Linked DNA regions of Homo sapiens: region 2 is linked to region 1. Evidence: fine-mapped expression QTL. A gene starts in region 1. The other region holds a variant in brackets. All regions are shown on one strand. Distances are between the middles of the regions.

Region 1 (8,000 bases):
CTTCAATGCTGAATTTTAGAAACACTTGCAAACAGTTGGGCAAGGCAGTATTTCGAAAGTCAGGTAAATACTCGGTGATGAAGAAAAAAGAGACACCCAGATTGATTTCCTGGTAATTATTAACAGGAAAATCATTCAATCTGTAACAACATCAAGTCAACTTACCATCATTTCTTCCGATTCTCCTGGAAGGCTTCTCTGTGAAAGGAAGTTAGACAATCATTCTTCAACTGTATGTCACTTATTACCTTGAGAGCCAAAACCGTTTTCTCAGTCAAAAAAGAAATTTTATTTTTCTTCAATACTGAGCTGTTATTCATTCACTGGAGTTGAGACATAAATATTGAATATTCTTGAAAACTATTTTCCCACTGGTGAGTTTCTCAATAAGTTTCTCAACCAGTTCTGGTGGCGTGTGTGTCATTCTTGGATATAATGCTAGAACAAGTAATTTTTAAATAAAAATATTCAACCAAATGCATCCTGGGTAGCGTATATCCCCTTGATGCTATTTGCTCTATTTTTTACTCAGTTGAATGGAGACTTTGATCCTCCATTCGGCCATGAGGCTGTGGGCATGCTGTTCCCACTGTTTGCAGTGCCCCTGCTAGGTTCCTCAACCCCCATATGGAGAACTCCTACTCACCCTTCAGATCTCAGCTCCAGCAGAATTCCTCCAGTGAAAATCTCTAACACCCCAAGACTAGGTCGGTTTCCTTTACTAAGTGTTTTTGCAGCAGCATATTCCTTCCTGCAGAGTGCTCACCTTGTTTCATAATGATTCATTCTATTTGAGGGATTATTTGACTAAAGTCTGTCTCTTCCTTTAAACTAAGCTACATAAAAGCAGGGATTTTCATGTATTTCCTCCACAGTGTAACCCCTGAGGCAAACACAGTGACTGGCACCTAGAAAATTCTATGCTTTTAACCACCATGCTAGGAGATTATCCATACACTTGACTGTCCTGAGGAAATGAACAAAGGCGATTCCCTTGCCTTTGAAAGTGAATGGCTTAAGGGTGGTGGGTGAACATGTAATGTTTGGTGAGCTGTTAATAATAGATCCAAGAAGTCGGGTGTTGGATATAAGCTCAGCTTGCCTGATTCGGGGTGAACTGAGGTTCTGTGCTGTGTGACATGGTGAGGTCAATGGTTGACCTCTTCTTGTAGACTTCTTGAATGCAATGCTCAATGACAAATTTTTCTCTCTTGTGGCTAAATAAATTGTGACATGAAGTCTTGCTTATTGGATTTTAATATTATTAGTCTACAAAAAAAAATCCTGGATTTTCAGAAAGTAAAAAATTCACACCCATACAAAATAAGACATTGATCAGCTTAGGGTTGCTGCTTCCGTAAATACCTCCTCTCTCAGCATGTGGGCTCCGTGGGGAAGAAGCCAAGCCCTTCCTGGTGTTCTGGAAAACTCACCCCCTTAATTAGAGGGTTTTGTCTATACTGCTGCTGGTGGCCGCCAGGATTGCAACTTCCAATGTGGCCAATTCTCCTTCTCAGGTGCCCTCAGAGTGACCAGAGGAAGGAGATTGTGAGGCTGCAAGGGGGAGTGTCTGTCATCGCTAAAATAAGAAAAGTCTTCCTAACAGGAAATCCTTCCGGCAAGGCAGGAAATAATTTCGGAATCTTAAGTTTTGAAGAAAACACATAGCCATGTATTCTTTTTTTTTTTTTTTTTTTTAAATGGAGTGGGGACAGCGTCTCCCTCTGTTGCCCAGGCTGGTGCAATCATAGCTCACTGCAGCCTCGAACTCTTGGGTTCAAGTGATCCTCCATCTCAGCTTCTCAAATAGCTGGGATTACAGGTGCATGCCAGCTAATATATATATTAGCTGGGTGGCAGAGGTAGAGCCTCACTATGTTACCCAGGCTGATCTGGAACTCCTGGCCTCAAGTGATCCTCCCTCCTTGGCCTCTGAAAATGCTGTGATTATAAGTGGGAGCCACTGTGCTGAGTCGTGTACTCTTTAAGGGACTAAATTGAGCATTATGGTGTGAAGGCTGCTGAGCAGTTGTGTGAGTTTCTCTTTTTATTTCACCTGGGTGATCTCTTCCACCAAGGTGTAAGAAGTCTGGACTCTTCTGTGCTAAAAAACAAACTCTTAAGAAAATCTAGCAGAAGGCATCTTAACACTTGTCTTCTTCTGCCATAATCTCTTTCACTTTTTTTCCCCCTTTTGGGAGTAAACCTTACTATACCTGATATCTCCGGTTCTCTGCCACCAATTGAAATTTGCCTGGGGCCAGTTCCACAAGATCTTCATAGTCTACAAACTTAAAAAAAATTAGGATTTTAACTTTTTTTTTTTTAATTATACTGTAAGTTCTGGGGTACATGTGCACAACGTGCAGATTTGTTACATAGGTATACATGTGCCATGTTGGTTTGCTACACCCATTAACTCATCATTTACGTCAGGTATTTCTCCTAATGCTATCCCTCCCCTAGCCCCCCACCCCCTGACAGGCCCCAGTGTGTGATGTTCCCCTTCCTGTGTCCATGTGTTCTCGTTGTTCGACTCCCACTTATGAGTGAGAACATGCGGTGTTGGGTTTTCCCTTCTTGTGTTACTTTGCTGAGAATGATGATTTCCAAAAGATCTAGAGCCAAAGAGATAGCTGTTGGTATTCATTATTTTATATTCTTTCCTCTACCTCTGGGCAATCACAATTTTGTATAAAATGATTTCTTTAGTATATTTCTATTTGCTGGTTACGTCTCAGAGGTGTCCAAATGGAGGGTAACAACACCTTCGCATTTGTTGGACATGGGAATTCATTTTTGAGTTTGCCAGCAGGTGGTAAGACAGAGATCAAAACAACCCAGTGATTAGGTGGGTGTCTGGGGAAGTATCTGGGTAGACCCTGGAGGCATTTGCAGTGTCTGACTGGACAGACATGAACCATACATCTCCCCAAGTTAAAAATGTAGGTATTTTCTAAAAGGAAATGCCAGTTAGAAATGACTGAAAAAGCACAAACACATTTGGATGTCTTGGCTTCAATTTGAGATTTCTAACACACTCTGGTGGCTTTTAAGTGTTGGAAAATATGATAGTTTCAAAGCAGACAGAGTGATATTTTCCCTTTGTAAATATGCCGTCATATTCTCTGGCATTTTTATAGGTAATCCACTCTGCAAGTATTATAAGCCTTTGCATTTGCTGGGATGTTCCCATAACATGCTTCGCTTTTCTGGCATAAAAATAGCTCTTGTATGACTTTCAGAAACAGACTTTCAGTCCAAGACTTTCCTTACATTGGAGATGGCTAAGGGACAAAAGTGGAGACCTGTACTCCATGGGAATTATTCTTGTACTTTTCCACCCTGCCTGCTATCTTCCGCTTTAATAGGAATACTTAAAGTGCTCTTATTACAAATATCACTGTTCACTTAGATATGAAAAACAGTGTGCTTTGATAATGACTTTTCTTATACTCTTAGTAAAAGAGTGATAATATTTCTTCATCATCATAACAGCTAGTAATTATTAAGCACTTACTAGTCCAGGCGCTCTGCTAGAAGAGTTTACACTGTGTCATTTAATTCTCAAAGCAAACCATTGGGTTAGGTCTATTCTTACCCCCAATTTTTTAGGTGAGGAGTGAGCAGCTCTGCTCCATAAATGCTACGCTCTGATGCCTGCCCATTGATCTTGACTTAATTTTCATGCAAAACCTGTTAATGCTTTAAAAGGTAAATATACATTCCAGTAATTATAACAGTAAACACTTGCACTCAGATGAATTTTATCTTAAGTTTCCATTACACACAGAATAAGGCCATTGAATAGCGATTCCAATAGATGATTTACTGAGCTCATGAACAAGCCAACAGCAAGGAGTGATCTGTAAGTACTTACTTCAGAAAGTCCATTTATGGGGATTTCGAAGCCTGATACTTCAGAAAGAAAGAAGCAGATGAAAAAGCACGTGAGTCTTTTCATTTTGCTGGACAGTTTTGCCAAGCTCCCCAAAGCAGATGGTCTGGGGAGGATATCACTTCTTCCTACTGAACCAAGTTCAAAGGAACAGCAGAGGAGTACAGTTCGCTTTAAGAAAGAAGAAAAAAGAAGAAAAAACTCTCTAACTTTGTTCAAAATTGGGACAAATATTTGTTCTGGAGCTCAAACTTGAGCTGTGTGGGTGGATCGAACACCCAGAGGTTATTCAAACAGCAAAGTCAGAAGCAGTTGCTTACTGTGAGGACAAGTCAGGGGCAGATGGATGTGCTTGAATGTGCTTGTGTGCTTTTATTTTATTTTTATTTTTTATTTTTTGGCTTTTGCTGATTTCTATTGATCTTAAAATCAGAGAGACCTACAGATAATTGTCATCCTTTCTAAAGGACCAAGTGCAGAACTATTCCAAGAAACAAAATCCTTTGATCTAAATGAAAGCAGGAAAAATTTAGAAAAAGTGGGAGAAGACACAGAAGGGTTTTTCTGAGCAAAGAATTCATTGTGCATGTTTTCCCCTATCTCTTTGATGACTGTCTACCTGTTACCTATAAAGACCCAGGCAAGTGGCTGTGCAGGATACTAGGGCAGATCTTCAGTGAGAATGCTTCGTGAATGTCTTTGATTAAGGTAACAGTGTCTGTCCTGCTGCCCCTATCAGCCGGGCTCAGGTCAGTGGCAAATCAATACTCCCCAGTCTCAGAATTGGAGTGCAGTGGTGAGATCAAAGCTCATTGCAGCCTCAACTTCCCCCGGCTCAAGCAATCTGCCCACCTCAGCCTCCAGAGTAGCTGGACTACAGGTGTGCACTACACTGCCTGGCTATTTTTTGTAGAGATGGGATTTCATCATGTTGCTCATCCTGGTCTTGAACACCTGGGCTCAAGCTATCTGCTTGCCTCAGCCTCCGAAACTGCTGGGATTCCAGATGTGAGCCCCCATGCCTAGCCTCCATCCTGGTCAGATTCTATTTTTCTTGCAACAAACAGGAAATGTAACTTCTTGGATGCAACACTGAAATAGGAAGCTCCAGCTGTGGGCAGAATTACAATACAAGGGAGGTTGTCTTATCCTCAGGACCAAGCACCCCAGGCCAACTTCTGGGATCCTGGAGCTCCTTGCTACATTTAAAGCCCAATTCACAGGGCATGCAACAGAGAGTTTTCTGCATTTTCCTCCCTAGTTTCCCCTCAGTCTTCGAAATTGCACAGCCGTGTGTCTGCTGGAGAAACATAACTTCTGAAATAATGGAAGGGAGAAAACAGATTCTCCCCTCCCTTGCCTAGGTTGGACTAGTTGAGCGCCCACCTTGGCCAGTGAGTGCCTCAGTGGACCCCTCATGGAAAAATCCTGCCACAGCTTTGCATTCTTGACTGAGATACTGTTTCTGGAGAATTAAGACCCAATGGCAGCTGGGCGCGGTGGCTCACACTTGTAATCCCAGCACTTTGGGAGACTGAGGCGGGTGGATGACCTGAGGTCAGGAGTTTGAGACCAGCCTGGCCAACATAGTGCAACCCCGTCTCTACTAAAAATACAAAAATTAGCCAGGTGTGGTGGCATGCGCCTGTAATCCCAGCTACTTGGGAGGCTGAGGCATGAGAATTGCTTGAACTGGGGAGGCGGAGGTTAGAGTGAGCTGAGATCACGCCACTGCATTCCACCTGGGCAACAGGGCAAGACTTGGTCTCAAAAGAAAAAAATAAATAAATAATAAAAAACCCAATGGCATGTTCTCCCAAAAACAGCAGTGACTTTCAAAATCATACCTCCTTCCATTGATCATTTCCTTTCTGATTATTTTAATCTGATATTCAGAATTATCTCAGAATAAACCAAACCAAAAGCAGGCTGGACTTTTTTCCATGCTGATACTCTGTCTTCAGATCCCAAAGTCCTTTTTTTTTTTTTTTTTTGAGAGGGAGCGTCACTCTGTGGCTCAGACTCAAGCGCAATGGCATGATCTTGGCTTACTGCAACCTCCACCTCCCAGGTTCACGCGATTCCCCTGCCTGAACCTCCCAAGTAGCTGGAATTACGGGCGTGCACCACCACAACTAACTTTGTATTATTTTTTTTAAAGTAAAGATGGGGTTTCACCATATTGGTCAGGCTGGTCTCAAACTCCTGACCTCGAGTAATCCACCTGCCTCAGCCTCCCAAAGTGTTGGGATTATAGGCGTGAGCCACTGTGCTCAGCCTGATCCCAAATTCTTGAAAACAAAACAAAACAAAACAACATTTGCTCTCTCTCTCAATGTTCAGAAGCACGACCGCGTAGGCTGTGTATTCAGGCTACTGAGTCTTGAACCTGAGACCCTTTCCCCTTGCACTCCCCACCCCACTGCCAACCCCTCCCATCATGCCTGGGCAGCTGTGACGTGGTGAATTGAATATATCCACTGATTTCTAGGATGGAAATCACTACCATAAATGCCACAAGAATATTCACTTTCACGTATGTGAAAATCAGTAGGAAATCTACAAGAAAAAAAATCACAATATTTCATAATGTTTGAACAAAGAGATAACATTTAGTACTCATTGGGAACTCTGGGAAATATCAACAAACTTGAGATTCATCACTGAGTGTAAGTCATTGTGGTTTAGCTGACAGTATAACAATAGCTGCCTCACATTTATAGCATTCAGCTCCAGCCCTGTCATTGTGAAAGAGCATGTTTGTAAAAGTCCAAAGTCAAAGCTGGATGAATTCACCAGAAAAATAGCTATATTTGACCCTGACCTGCTTGTTTGGTGGGTCAGGTTGCACATAACATGGAGCAGGTCTGTTTTCTACACATAGTTGAGCTGTGATGGCTTCCTCTGATTGTGAAGACATTTTGTTACATCTTCTTCAAGGATTGTCTGTTTGAATTTCCAAAGATGATATTTGATTACTCTGCTACATTTTTTTGTCCTCTGTAATGCAGAGGTGTGTTTTTTTTGGTTCTGTTTTTTTTTTTTTTTTTAGATGGAGTCTCTCTCTTGCCCAGGCTGGAGTGCAGTGGCACAATCTTGGCTCACTGCAAGCTCCGCCTCCCGGGTTCACGCCATTCTCCTGCCTCAGCTTCCCGAGCAGCTGGGACTACAGGTGCCTGCCACCACGCCTGAATAATTTTTTGTATTTTTAGTAGAGACGGGGTTTCACCATGTTAGCCAGGATGGTTTCGATCTCCTGACCTCGTGGTCCACCCGCCTCAGCCTCCCAAAGTGCTGGGATTACAGGCTTGAGCCACCGCGCCCAGCCTGTTTTAGTTTTTTAATGGAGACAGGGTCTCACTCTATCACCCAGGCTGGAGTGCAGTGATGCAATCATGGCTTACTGCAGCCTCAACCTCCTGGGCTCAAGCAATCCTCCCATCTCAGCCTCCTGAGTAGCTGAAACTACAGGTGCACACCACCACACCCAGCTGATTTTTGTGTGAGCGTATATTTTGTAGATGTGAGGTTTCACCATGTTGCCCAGGCTGGTCTTGAACTCCTGGACTCAAGTAATCCACCCATGTTGGCCTCCCAAAGTGTTGGGATTACATGTGAGCCACTGTGCCTGGCCAGGTGTGGGTTTGTATCATTTGAGGCCAGAACATAAAGATGTTTCAAAAGAAAAATATTTGAAACTGAATAGCAGTATCACAAGCCAAAAATGGGAAGTTAGAGAGCATGGAACGGATTCTCTCATTGGTTCTTAAGCCATGGAAACGTGGCTTTGCTGTTGAGCCATTTCAGTTCTTTCCTATTCTGTGTTCCTTACCTCTGAAGTTCAAATTCAAATCCATTGCCAGAGTAGAGAAATCGAGAGTAGAGTAGACATGTGACCAGCCACGATAGGTCAATTCCAGTGTAGCAGCTTTTGCTGTTCCTCCCAGGGTGTCTGGGTGTTTTCTGGCGAGGAAGGGGTCTCATCTGGAAGTGGTCTCACGATCACACTAAGATCTGGTGCTGGTATTTCAGGTACAGGCTGGGAAGCACCTTCATATGAGTAATTGTGGCTCCCTCCAAGGTGTAAACAGGGCGAAGAGTG
Region 2 (11,833 bases), 73 kb before region 1:
AGAATTGCTTGAACCGGGGAGGCAGAGGTTGCAGTGAGCCGAGATTGCACCATTGCACTCTAGCCTGGGCGACAGAGCAAGACTCTGTCTAAAAAAAAAAAAAAAATGGCACTAAAAATAGCAACCTCTTCTAAGTATTGCTGATCCTTCATAGAGTTTATATGAAGGTCAATGAATTAACACTTTATGAGTGCTTAGAAGAGTGCCTATATTCAATTCAGATTAGCTGTTCTTATCATTACCATTAATAAACATTTCTTTGCTTCTTACCATCTCTTTCTTTCCAAACTTCTAGACATTTTGGTCCTAGGACCCCTTTATACTTTTAAAAAATATTGAAGACCCCAAGAACTTCTGTTTATGTGGGTTAGATGTATCAACACATGGAAATAAAAACAAGTTTTTTAAAAAAATTGGTTTATAAATTTTTATTATTGTTATTATTATTGAGACGGGAGTTTCGCTCTTGTTGCCCAGGCTGGAGTGCAGTGGCACCATCTTGGCTCGCTGCAACCTCTGCCTCCTGGGTTCAAGCAATTCTCCTGCCTTGGCCTCCCAAGTAGCTGGGATTACAGGCATGCGCCACCACGCTCCGCTAATTTTTTATATTTTTAATAGAGAAAGGGTTTAGGCATGTTGGCCATGCTGGTGTTGAACTCCTGACCTCAGGTGATCCACCCACCTCACCCTCCCAAAGTGCTGGGATTACAGGTGTGAGCCAACATGCCAGGCATTTTTTTTTTTTTTTTTTTTTTTTGACAGGGTCTTGTTTTGTGGCATAGTCATGGCTTACTACAACCTTGACCTCCTGGGCTCAGGCGATCCTCCTGCTTCAGCCTCCCATGTAGCTGGGAACATAGATGCACACCACCACACCTGGCTAATTTTTTGATTCTGTGTGTGTGTGTGTGTGTGTGTGTAGAGACAGGGTCTCACTTTGTTGCCCAGGCTGGTCTTGAACTCCTGGGCTCAAGTGATCCTCCTCTCTCGATCTCCCAAAGTCCTGGGATTACAGGTATGAGCCATCATACCCAGGCCAAACAAAATTATTTAATGCTTTTCTATTGACTGCACAAAACTCAGCCTCTTTCGCATGACATTCGGGGTACTTCAAAAATTAGCCAAACCTTATTTTGGTTTCCCAGCCACCTCGTCTCCCTTATTCTACTCTACCCTCACTCTCACTCTCATTTTTATCAGCCATAAATTTTAGTCAAATTAGGCCATTTCTCAGATCTGTGAGGCTTTCATGTTTCTGTGCCAGCTGGAAATAGCTTTCTCTTGCAGTTCACCTCTAGGGTTCTACTTATCCTTCACTGACCACAATGAAATCACCTCTGGGCATCTCCTGTGACTCTTTCAATGGTATTTTGTTACACTTCTTCTTCAGTTTAACTTTTGTTATGATTGGTTATGCTAGATTGTAACCTCCTTGAAGGTTAAGATTTATGTCTTATTCACCCACGTTTATCTAGCACTTAATACGGTGTACCCAGCTCAGAGGGACATATTAAGTGCCAATTTCATGTGGAATCAGGGCAGTTTTGTTGTCATAGATAGACTGGGGTCATTATGCCACCATCAGTGGCACTAACAGACTTCATGAAGGACCCATTCCAAAGGTATGTGGTAACTGTTTCTATGACTGCTTTACCAAGACAAAAAATTTCAACTCCCAACTGACTTTTAACTTAATCCTTAAAAGCTATAATATTTTGGAGTTCTTTCCTTGATCAGTTTTTAAAGGTTCATAGCCATATTCATGTAGATGTTTCACATATCATTTGGACATTAAAACTATACTACTGGCTAGATGCAGTGGCTCACGCCTGTAGTCCCAGCACCTTGGGAGGCTGAGGCAGGTGGAGATCACCTGAGGTCACGAGTTTGAGACCAGCCTGCCCAACATGGTGAAACCCCATCCCTACGAAAAATACGAAACAAAATTAGCCAGGCGTGGTGGTGGACCCCTGTAATCCTGGCTACTTGGGAGGCTGAGGCAAGAGAATCACTTGAACCTGGGAAGTGGAGGTTGCAATGAGCTGAGATCACACTATTGCACTCCAGCTTGGGTGACGAGAACGAGACTCTGTCTCAAAAAAAACAAAAACAAAAAACTGTACTACTGCTTAAATTTCAAAAAGATGATGCTATATGTTTGTAGAAATTACCTTAATGCTTTCCTTTCTTTCTTTATTAGGGAATTCCGAAATGACTTTCTAGAACTTCTCAGGAGACGCTTTGGTAAACATTTTAAATATTGTGCAAATAACAGCTTTATAAATGGCATAATCTTCTGATGATCATCAGTGTCATATTTTGTTCTCAGGCACTAAAAGGGTCCACAACAACATTGTCTACAACGAATACATCAGCCACCGAGAGCACATCCACATGAATGCCACTCAGTGGGAAACTCTGACTGATTTTACTAAGTGGCTGGGCAGAGAAGGTAAGAATGAGATTTTAAAGTTGCTTTTTCTTTCCCACTTCTAATCTTCATAGGATGAGATGTTTGGGATAAGAAAAGAGAAAAAAAATTGGGTCAGTGTTTTGCTTTTTCATCGTGTTAGTTGATTCCATTTTGGGAGCATAATTTCTGCCTTAAGTTAATAGAACATCATATAACTGTTGGACATTAAATACTTAGATAGAACTGAATAAATACTATGCAAGGTAATACAGTTGTCTCTCAGTATCCGTGGGGGATTGGGTCCAGGACCCCTTGCTGATAACCAAAATTCACAGATACTCAAGTCCCTTATATAAAATAAAATGATGTAGCACTTGCATGTAACCTATATACATCCTCCCACATACTTTAAATCATCTCGAGATTTCTTATAATATTTAATACAATGTAAATAGTTTTTATACTCTATTGTTAGGGAAAAATGGGAAGGAAAAAATGTCTGTGCATGTTCAGTACAGATGCAACCATCCGTTTTTCTTTTTTTGAATATTTCTCACCCACGGTTGGTTGAATTCACATACAGTATCTAAATTTCATTAAATATAAATATGGAAAATCCCATTTGCTGCATGAATTTGTGTATTTGAATGTGTTTTAGTGTATTTGGTGTTTTGTTTTGTTTTGTTTTTGAGACTGAGTCTCGCTCTGTTGCCAGGCTGAAGTGCAGTGGTAGGATCTTGGCTCACTGCAACCTCTGCCTCCTGGGTTCAAGTGATTCTCCTGCCTCAGCCTCCTGAGTAGCTGGGATTACAGGTGTGCACCACCACGCCCAGCTAATTTTTGTATTTTTAGTAGAGATGGGATTCACCATGTTGGCCAGGCTGGTCTTGAGCTCCTGACCTCAAGTGATCCACCTGTGTTGGCCTCCTAAAGTGCTGAGATTACAGGTGTAAGCCACTGCGCTCGGCCTGATTTGTGTGTGTTTGAATGAATAAATATGCAGAGGTGAAACACATTCATATTTATGTTTTGCTTTGATTGTATGCTAATTTATGGCAGTGGCTGTTTTTTTAAGGCTTGTGCAAAGTGGACGAGACACCAAAAGGCTGGTATATTCAGTACATAGACAGGGACCCAGAAACTATCCGCCGGCAACTGGAACTGGAGAAAAAGAAAAAGCAGGACCTTGATGATGAAGAAAAAACTGCCAAATTTATTGAAGAGCAAGTGAGAAGAGGCCTGGAAGGGAAGGAACAGGTGGGTAAGCAACATCATCCTGAGAAGCAACGTCCAGAGGTCTAAAGAAGCACAATGGCTTGGTTTTTCTTTTTTGTTTTTGTTGTTGTTGTTGTTTTGGAGATGGAGTCTTGCTCTGCCGCCCAGGCTGGAGTGCAGTAGCGCAATCTCAGCTCACTGCAACCTCTGCCACCCAGGTTCAAGCAGTTCTCCTGCCTCAGCCTCCTGAGTACCTGGAACTACAGGCGCCCGCCACCACGCCCAGATAATTTTTGTATTGTTAGTAGAGACAGGGTTTCACCATGTTGGTCAGGCCGGTCTCCAACTCCTGACCTCGTGATCCGGCCGCCTCGGCCTCCCAAAGTTACAGGATTACAGGCGTGAGCCACCGTGCCCAGCCAGCTTGTGTCTTTTCAGCGTTGAATCAAGTTCTGTGGGCACTGTTCCTGAACTAAGAGGAGAACCAGCCTGGTGTCAAAAGCACATTTTTGGCATTGACAAACCTTGGTTTGATTCCTGACATACTAACTTCATAATCTTGTATAATTGCATAATATTTCCAAACCTCAATTTCCTTATATCTAAATAGAGACGCTACCTAATGGGAAGACATATACACAGATAATTTCAACTGATTATAATTAATTCAGTACTGGAGGTAAATGCAGCATGTGGAAACATAGAGAAGCAATGTTTACTCTGGCCTGGGGAGGACAGAGTATTTGAGGGTGGATACAACCCCAGTGCCCAGGAGTCTTGAAGAATCAGTGGGTGCAAGCCAGATGAATGGGGAGGGAAGGAGCTGAGGTGTTAGAATAACTAGGTTGGGGCATTTATTTCAACATATATTTATAAGCGCCTCCGCTGTGCCAGGATTCTTGTAGGCACAGGGAATACTCAGTGAACAAAAGATACAGAAAACTGTCTCCTGTGGCTTACATTTTTTTTTTTTTTGGGGGGGGGACGGAGTCTCACTCTGTCGCCCAGGCTGGAGTGCAGTGGCGCGATTTCAGCTGACTGCAACCCCCGCCTCCTGGGTTCAAGCGATTCTCGTGTCTCAGCCTCCCAAGTAGCTGGGACTACAGGCACAAGCCACCATGCCCAGCTAATTTTTTGCATTTTTAGTAGAGACGGGGTTTCACCATGTTGGCCAGGTTGATCTCAAACTCCTGACCTCAGGTGATCCGCCCTTCTGGGCCTCCCAAAATGCTGAGATTACAGGCGTGAGCCACCACGCCCTGCCTCCTGTGGCTTACATTCTAACACTTGTGTGTGAGCAGGCAAATATAGCCTGGTGTGTATGTGAAACTGAGTGTTTTTTGAACTGGTTATTGAGCTTTAACATACATTGATTAAAGTGTATGAGGTGCATTAATCTTAGGTGTACAGTTCACTGAACTTTTACAAATATACGTGTGTAGAAAGAGTGACAGAAAACCTGTGGAACCACCACCCAGATAAAGATATAGAACTTTTCTAGTATCCCAGAGGGTTTCCTCATGCTCGTTGCCAATTAATACCCCATCTCCCAGACATAACCATTGTTCCAGTATACCACGATTGATTATTCATTAGTTTAGTCTGTTCTTGAACAGACTTAAAAAAAAAAAAAGCTTTTGCTTTTCCTAAAGTTTATTGCCTTATATTTTTGTTACTTCCTGTTTAAGTTGTAATAGAAATAAAAATATAGGTAAACTTCTGCAGTTTGGCATAGAAAAGCTGCTTTTTGGTATTTAGAATAATTCTCAATTGGATAATATTTGCAAAGCATGTAAGTTCTATTTTTTTTTTTTTTTTTTTTTTTTGAGAGACTGTCTCTCTCTGTCACCAGGCTAGAATGCAGTGGCATGATTACAGCTCACTGCACCCTTGACCTCTGGTGCTCAAGTGAACCTCTTGCCTCATATGAGTAGCTGGGACTATAGGTGTGCACCACAATGCCTGGCTAATTTTTTTTTTTTTTAATAGAGATGGGGGGCTCTTGCAATGTTGTCCAAGCTGGTCTCGAACTCCTGGCCTCAAGCATTCCTCCTGCCTGAGCTCGACCTCCCAAAGTGCTGGGATTATAGGCATGAGCCACCATGCCCAGCCAAAGCATGTAATTTCTTTTCTTTTTTTTTTTTTTTGAGACAGAGTCTTGCTCTGTCACCCAGGCTGGGGAGGGCAGTGGCATGATCTCGGCTCACTGCAACCTCCGCCTCCCAGGTTCAAGCAATTCTCCTGTCTCAGCCTCCCAAGTAGCTGGGATTACAGGCGCCCGCCACCATGCCGGGCTAATTTTTGTATTTTTAGTAGAGACGGGGTTTCACCAA[G/A]TTGGCCAGGCTCGTCTCGCTCTTTCACCCAGCCTGGAGTGAAGTGGCACGATCTCCGCTCACTGCAGCACTCACCCCCTGGATTCAGACGATTCTCCTGGCTCAGCCTCCTGAGTAGCTGGCATTACAGGCGCCCGCCATCACACCCGGCTAAATTTTTGTATTTTTAGTAGAGACAGGGTTTCACCACGTTGGCCAGGCTCATCTCGAATGCCTGACCTCAGGTGATCCACCTGCCTTGGCCTCGCAAAGTGCTAGGATTACAGGCATGAGCCACCATACTGGGCCAAAATATGTAATTTCTTTTTTTTTTTTTTGAGATGGAGTCTCGTTCTGTCACCCAGGCTGGAGTGCAGTGGCATGATCTTGGCTCACTGCAACCTCTGCCTCCCGGGTTCACGTGATTCTCCTGCCTCAGCCTCCTGAGTAGCTGGGATTACAGGTGCATACCACCATGCTCGGCTAATTTTTTGTGTATTTTTAGCAGAGACAGGGTTTCACTGTGTTGGCCAGACTGGTCTCGAACTACTGACCTCATGATCTGCCCGCCTCGGCCTCCCAAAGTGCTGGGATTACAGGTGTGAGCCACCGCGCCTGGCCGAAAGCATGTAATTTCTTAATTAGGATCTTAATCACTTGCGTATTAGAGCTGCCTGGGAACACAGGTAGCAAGTCATAATTTAGGCCTATTGAATGGTGATAGTAAGTGCAATGTACACCAAAACCTTAAAACTTTCTTTTTTTTAGGAGGTCCCTACTTTTACGGAATTAAGCAGAGAAAATGATGAAGAGAAAGGTAGTTTTATTTTTTATTTTTTCTTTTTTTAAACATAGATGCTTTTATATTGGCTTTGTTAAAAATGCAACTTGTCAACATATCTGAGAATAAGACATCGAATGTGTCTGAGTTACATTGTTCTTATTAATTTAATGAAAAGGTAATACTAATGAATTGATTGGATAGGATAGCTGAAGCCACAAGTAACAAAACTGACTACAATTAACTTAAACAATAAGGAAATATCTTGCCATAATAAGAATCCCAGAGGTAAGGTGGTTCTGCATGCCATCTAGACACAGGGTAGCTGCCAACACTCCAGCCGTCACATGCAGATTCTGCATTGTCGTGAGGATGGCAGAGAGCATCTCTGGATGCTCTTCTAGAATCTTGTTAAGAGCAAGGATACTTTTCCAAGAAGACACTCCTCCCTTCAATAGATTTCCTTTCAAATGTCATTGGCCAGAACTGTGTCACATGTCCACTCAAAAAGCAGTCACTGGGATTATGTTGATTGGATTAGACAATCAGAATTCACCCCAGAGATGAAAATGGTGTTATGTCCCCTGAGCCACAGGCAAGAGGCGTGGAGACCTAAACAGAATTGGAGTACTGTTCCCCAGGGGAAATGGGGATAGAGCAGGGAAGCGCCGGTGTGGTCTGCCACGGTGACACGGTGTGCAAGTTCCTCCTGTTCTATGGCTTTCAGTGTGGGACGTTTTACAGGAATGTGTGGTCTCCGTATAGGAACATTTTAGCTCTCGTTTATTGAAAATGTCCTGGAGTTCCTCTGTGAACACTTTGTAGTATCTTATCTGAGAAGTTTTATTATGATTTTCTTGAAATGTATGTATGGAATAACATTTTTTTCTTCTAGTCACGTTTAATTTGAGTAAAGGAGCATGTAGCTCATCCGGAGCAACATCTTCCAAGTCAAGGTGAGCTGCATCATTCACGGATATCTTAAAACATTAGGATTTTTGTGAAATATTGGTTACTGTATTTTAAAGTATTGTGAATCATTTTTTTCTAGTTGTAGTTTTCACCTGTTTTTGGTTTTTATTGGTTGCGTTGTTTTTTTAGCAATTGTTCTTTTTTTTTTTTTAAGAGATGGGGTCTTGCTATGTTGCCCAGGCTGGCCTCGAACTCCTGGGCTCAAGGTGATCTTCCTGCCTCAGCCTCCCAGGTATCAATAGCTGGGATTACAGGCACGCCCTACTGTGCCCAGCTAGCAACTGTTCTTTTCCTATTTGCCTGTTATGAGATGATTGTGTTTTTTGAGGAAAGCCTCATTTTGATTATATGTTTCACATCAATAAACTTTTGCTTCTCCATGAATCCTTCTCCATTTAACGGTTCCTTATTCGCTATATAAAACTGTTTCTTTTCCTGTCTTAGCCCACTTGTCACAGTTTAAATGTTAGCTGGATCTGCATTTTTCTTTTACTTGCTGCATTGTGAGTTTTCTGAGAATAGAGATTATCAACCTCTCTCCTTCGTCCCCAGTACAGTGTAAATACACCAGGAAACACTCAGTAGTCATTGCCCGCCCTTCTAGGTAGTCTAGCACAGGGCAGGGGTCAGCAAACTTTTTCTGTAAAGAGCCACATAGTAAATATTTTAGGCTTTTCGGCCAGATGTCTTTGTCACAATAACTGAACTCTGCTGTTGTAGTGAGAAGGCAGCCATGGACAGTGCAGGAAGGAACTGAGCATGGCTGGGTTCCAGTACATTTATTTACAAAAGCCGGTGGCAGCTGGCATTTGGCCCTTAGGCTGTCGTTTGCCAAAACCTGGCATAGCATGTGGTCAGGTAGTTCTACCTACTTTCTACATTATCTTCTCTTGCAATTTTTATGTATTCTTTCACCAAATCTTTATTCACTATTTCTGACATGCAGTACATTCAGTTTTGTTATGGAGGTTAAAAAAGATGAGTAAGACAAGAGAGTCAAGTACCAGTATCTACTGGAATTTGCTTTTAAGCCAGATGATATTTTCTATTTTACTTAGTACTTTACATGTTGTTTTTTTAAGATCTAAGTTTTTCGGGTTTGTTTGTAGGTCATTGTTTATTTACACTATTGAATAAGTGGCTAGGAGTATGGAAGGAGATAGGTAGGCTGAATCAGCAATATAGATCAACTTTAAAATGATTTGCCAGATGTCTTAACTTTGATCAAAATAATGTTTCAAAATTAACACCTACATTAGATATCATCAAGAAGTTGGTTATTTGGGTTCTACATCTGGGTACATTCCAGAAGAATTGTCTAACATTGGCATGATATGACCTGGAAGATCGGCTCAAATATAACACACATGCCTTATACTTTTAGAACTTTATGCATTTCTGTCTGTTCTTTTGAAGTATGTGTTATTCCTAGATGTAGATGGATGTTAAAATTGGTTCCAGTGTTCCCCAATTGACCTCCCTTGTATTAGTTTTCTATGGTCGCTGTAACAGATTACCACAAACTGGGTGGCTTAAAACAACAGAAATATGTTGAGGTCATATTCTAGAGGCCAGATTCTGAATCAGTATCACTGGCTTGAAATCAAGGAGCCTGCTGGCTGTGCTCTGGGGAAGAATCTGAGCTCCGGGGAAGAATCTGTCCCTTGCCTTTTCCAGCTCTGTTGGCCGCAGGCGTTACTTGGCTCATGGTTGCATCTCTCCAGTATTTAAGACGAGCATCTTCAAATGTCTCTTTGCCCCATCCTCACATCACCTTTTCCTCCAGGTGTCAAATCTCCCTCCACCTTGCTCTTACAAGAAAAGGGATGATTGTAGTTAGGGTCCACCTTGATAATCCAGGCCAAGCTCCTCATCTCAAGATCTTTAACTTACTCTCATTTGCAAAGACTCTTTTCTTAGATAATGTAACATTGATAGGTTTCAGGGATAAGGACCTGACATTTTTGGGGGTCTATACAGCCTGCTGTACCCCTATGCCAAACCTTGATATTAGCAAAAATATTAGTTTTATTTGACCAATTTTGATAATTTATTTGATAAGTTATCTATGTTAATATGTTGTGACCCGAGTCCATGAATAAGGAACAATATTTGTATAAGAATGTAGTGTCATGGGTAATACAATTGAAAGACATCTAAAATGTTTTTTCTCTGAAATTATGGTACATAATATAGTTTGGGATTCATTCTCCTGTGCATTTATATCTCTTATATATCTAAAACCTAGAAAAACTAAATGATGTGGATATCAAAGTGGACATTTTAGGCTATGTTGAGGCACAAAAATGAGCCCCCTTATTGCTTGAAACAGTTTACTTGATTTTCATCTCCATTTCTCCTTTGGGCTTCTTTATCTCCTTTGAGAAAGGCTAGAATTCACTCTAGTTACTGAAAGCAAAAATGAGGGCTGTTCAAGGAACCTTACTTTCCATTTTCATTCTGCTCATATTCATATCTTGCCTTGATTTTATTTTAACTCTGCCTTACCCCTGTCTCAGTCTCTCACCCTTCTAACAGAATCTTGATATTGCCAGCAAAAGGACCTTTCTAAACTTCAGCTCTTACCGTGTCACTCATTTATTAACATCTCTTGGTTTCAGCATCTCTAAGATGACCTCGAATTTTTTTACATACTATTAAGTGACTTTTGTGATCCTGTATGTCTCCTGCCGTTTGCTCTCAGCTGTGCTCATTGATTTGTGCTTTCCTAAATGAGCCTAGGGTCTCGCCCTTTCTTGCCTTTACATCTGCTGCTCCCCTTCCTGGAATGCCCTTTACATCACCCTGAGATCTTGCTGGGCTCTTCTGATCATCTTTTTCCCCATTATTGTCACATTCTAAGCATTTAATGATGCTGAGTAAATTTTCTTTTTCTTTCTTTCTTTTTTTTTTTTTTTTGAGACGGAATTTCGCTCTTGTTGCCCAGGCTGGAGCGCAGTGGCATGACCTCGGCTCACCACAACCTCTGCCTTCCAAGTTCAAGCGATTCTCCTGCCTCGGCCTCCCAAGTAGCTGGGAGTACAGGCATGCACCACCATGCTCGGCTAATTTTTTTGTATTTTTAGGAGAAACTGGATTTCACCATGTTGGTCAGGCTGGTCTCAAACTCCTGACCTCAAATGATCCACCTGTCTCAGCCTCCCAAAGTGCCGGGATTTCAGGCATGAGCCACCGCGCCCGGCCCAGTTGAGTTTTAAGAAGAGTAAATAATAGCCTTAAATAAACTCAAGTGTCTAAGCTGAGATTAATACCAAAATACTGAAATAATTTATAGATGTATTAATATTTGGGGACTCACTGTTGAGAACCTCTGAGGTATCATGGAGATTGGTAGAGGAGTCAGAAGGCAGAAAAATAAGCAAATATATTTTTTTAAGTGGAGAAAAGTCTTTAGAAAACAATAGATTAATAAGCATTTCCAACAGATTATGATAGGAAGTAGGTGGTTTGTGAACATGAGACGAGGAAGTGGTGATCCCTCAAGCCAAAAATAACTGCTTAATCCTAACTCCTCTTTTGCTAGGGTTATTAGTGCCTATTTTGTAGACATATTGTAGTTGATTATGATCTGAATTATCCCTGGATCCCTAGTTCAAAGTACACCTAAATCTAAAGAACATTTAAGTAGCAAGTTGAGGAGCTTATCTTACGTGGATTTGGCCTGTTCAAAACCCATGTCCATTATTTATAGCTGTCACACCCTGGGCAATGCATTCAGTAATAGAACCAGAGTTTAAATATATGTTCAGTGGGTTGAATTACAGGTCAAAACCCAGTGAGTAAAATTTTACAAAGGTAAATGGAAAGCCTGACAGTTAGGTAAAGAAAAACAACCCCCATAAAAACAGAGTGACAGAGTCCTTACCTACAATTCTCCATAGAGAAAAGAAGTAGGGGTTTTAGTTGACTTCAAGCTTAAAGTAACCCAGCAGTTCATCAATCTAAGGCTACCTTTAAATGCACTTTTTAAAGTCCAAATAAAGGAAAATAATAAATCTGTTGTATTCTCTACTAATCATATATTTTTTTCTTGGTTAGCTCCATGATAGCTTTGTGTAAATATTTATCCTTTGCTTCATCTTTTGTAAATATGACACATTAAATAATTAGATGGGTAAA

Evidence for each region. PIP is the estimated chance that this variant, and not a neighbour inherited with it, causes the effect.
Region 2: its variant is the best candidate, but not a certain one, in a credible set for the expression of ITIH2 in cerebellum (GTEx, PIP 0.81).

The regions. Positions count from the first base shown.
Region 1 is chr10:7,699,399-7,707,398 of GRCh38, reverse strand. It overlaps ITIH2 (inter-alpha-trypsin inhibitor heavy chain 2), which reads right to left and starts at 4,083. Exons shown (of 21, transcript NM_002216.3): 1 at 3,881-4,083; 2 at 2,217-2,291; 3 at 166-198. The coding sequence starts at 3,964.
Region 2 is chr10:7,770,675-7,782,507 of GRCh38, reverse strand. It overlaps KIN (Kin17 DNA and RNA binding protein), which reads left to right. Exons shown (of 13, transcript NM_012311.4): 3 at 2,201-2,244; 4 at 2,330-2,452; 5 at 3,489-3,670; 6 at 6,709-6,757; 7 at 7,617-7,677. Among named protein-coding and RNA genes, the nearest start is that of KIN, 11 kb to the left of the region's middle. The variant G/A (reference allele first, on the strand shown) is at 5,962.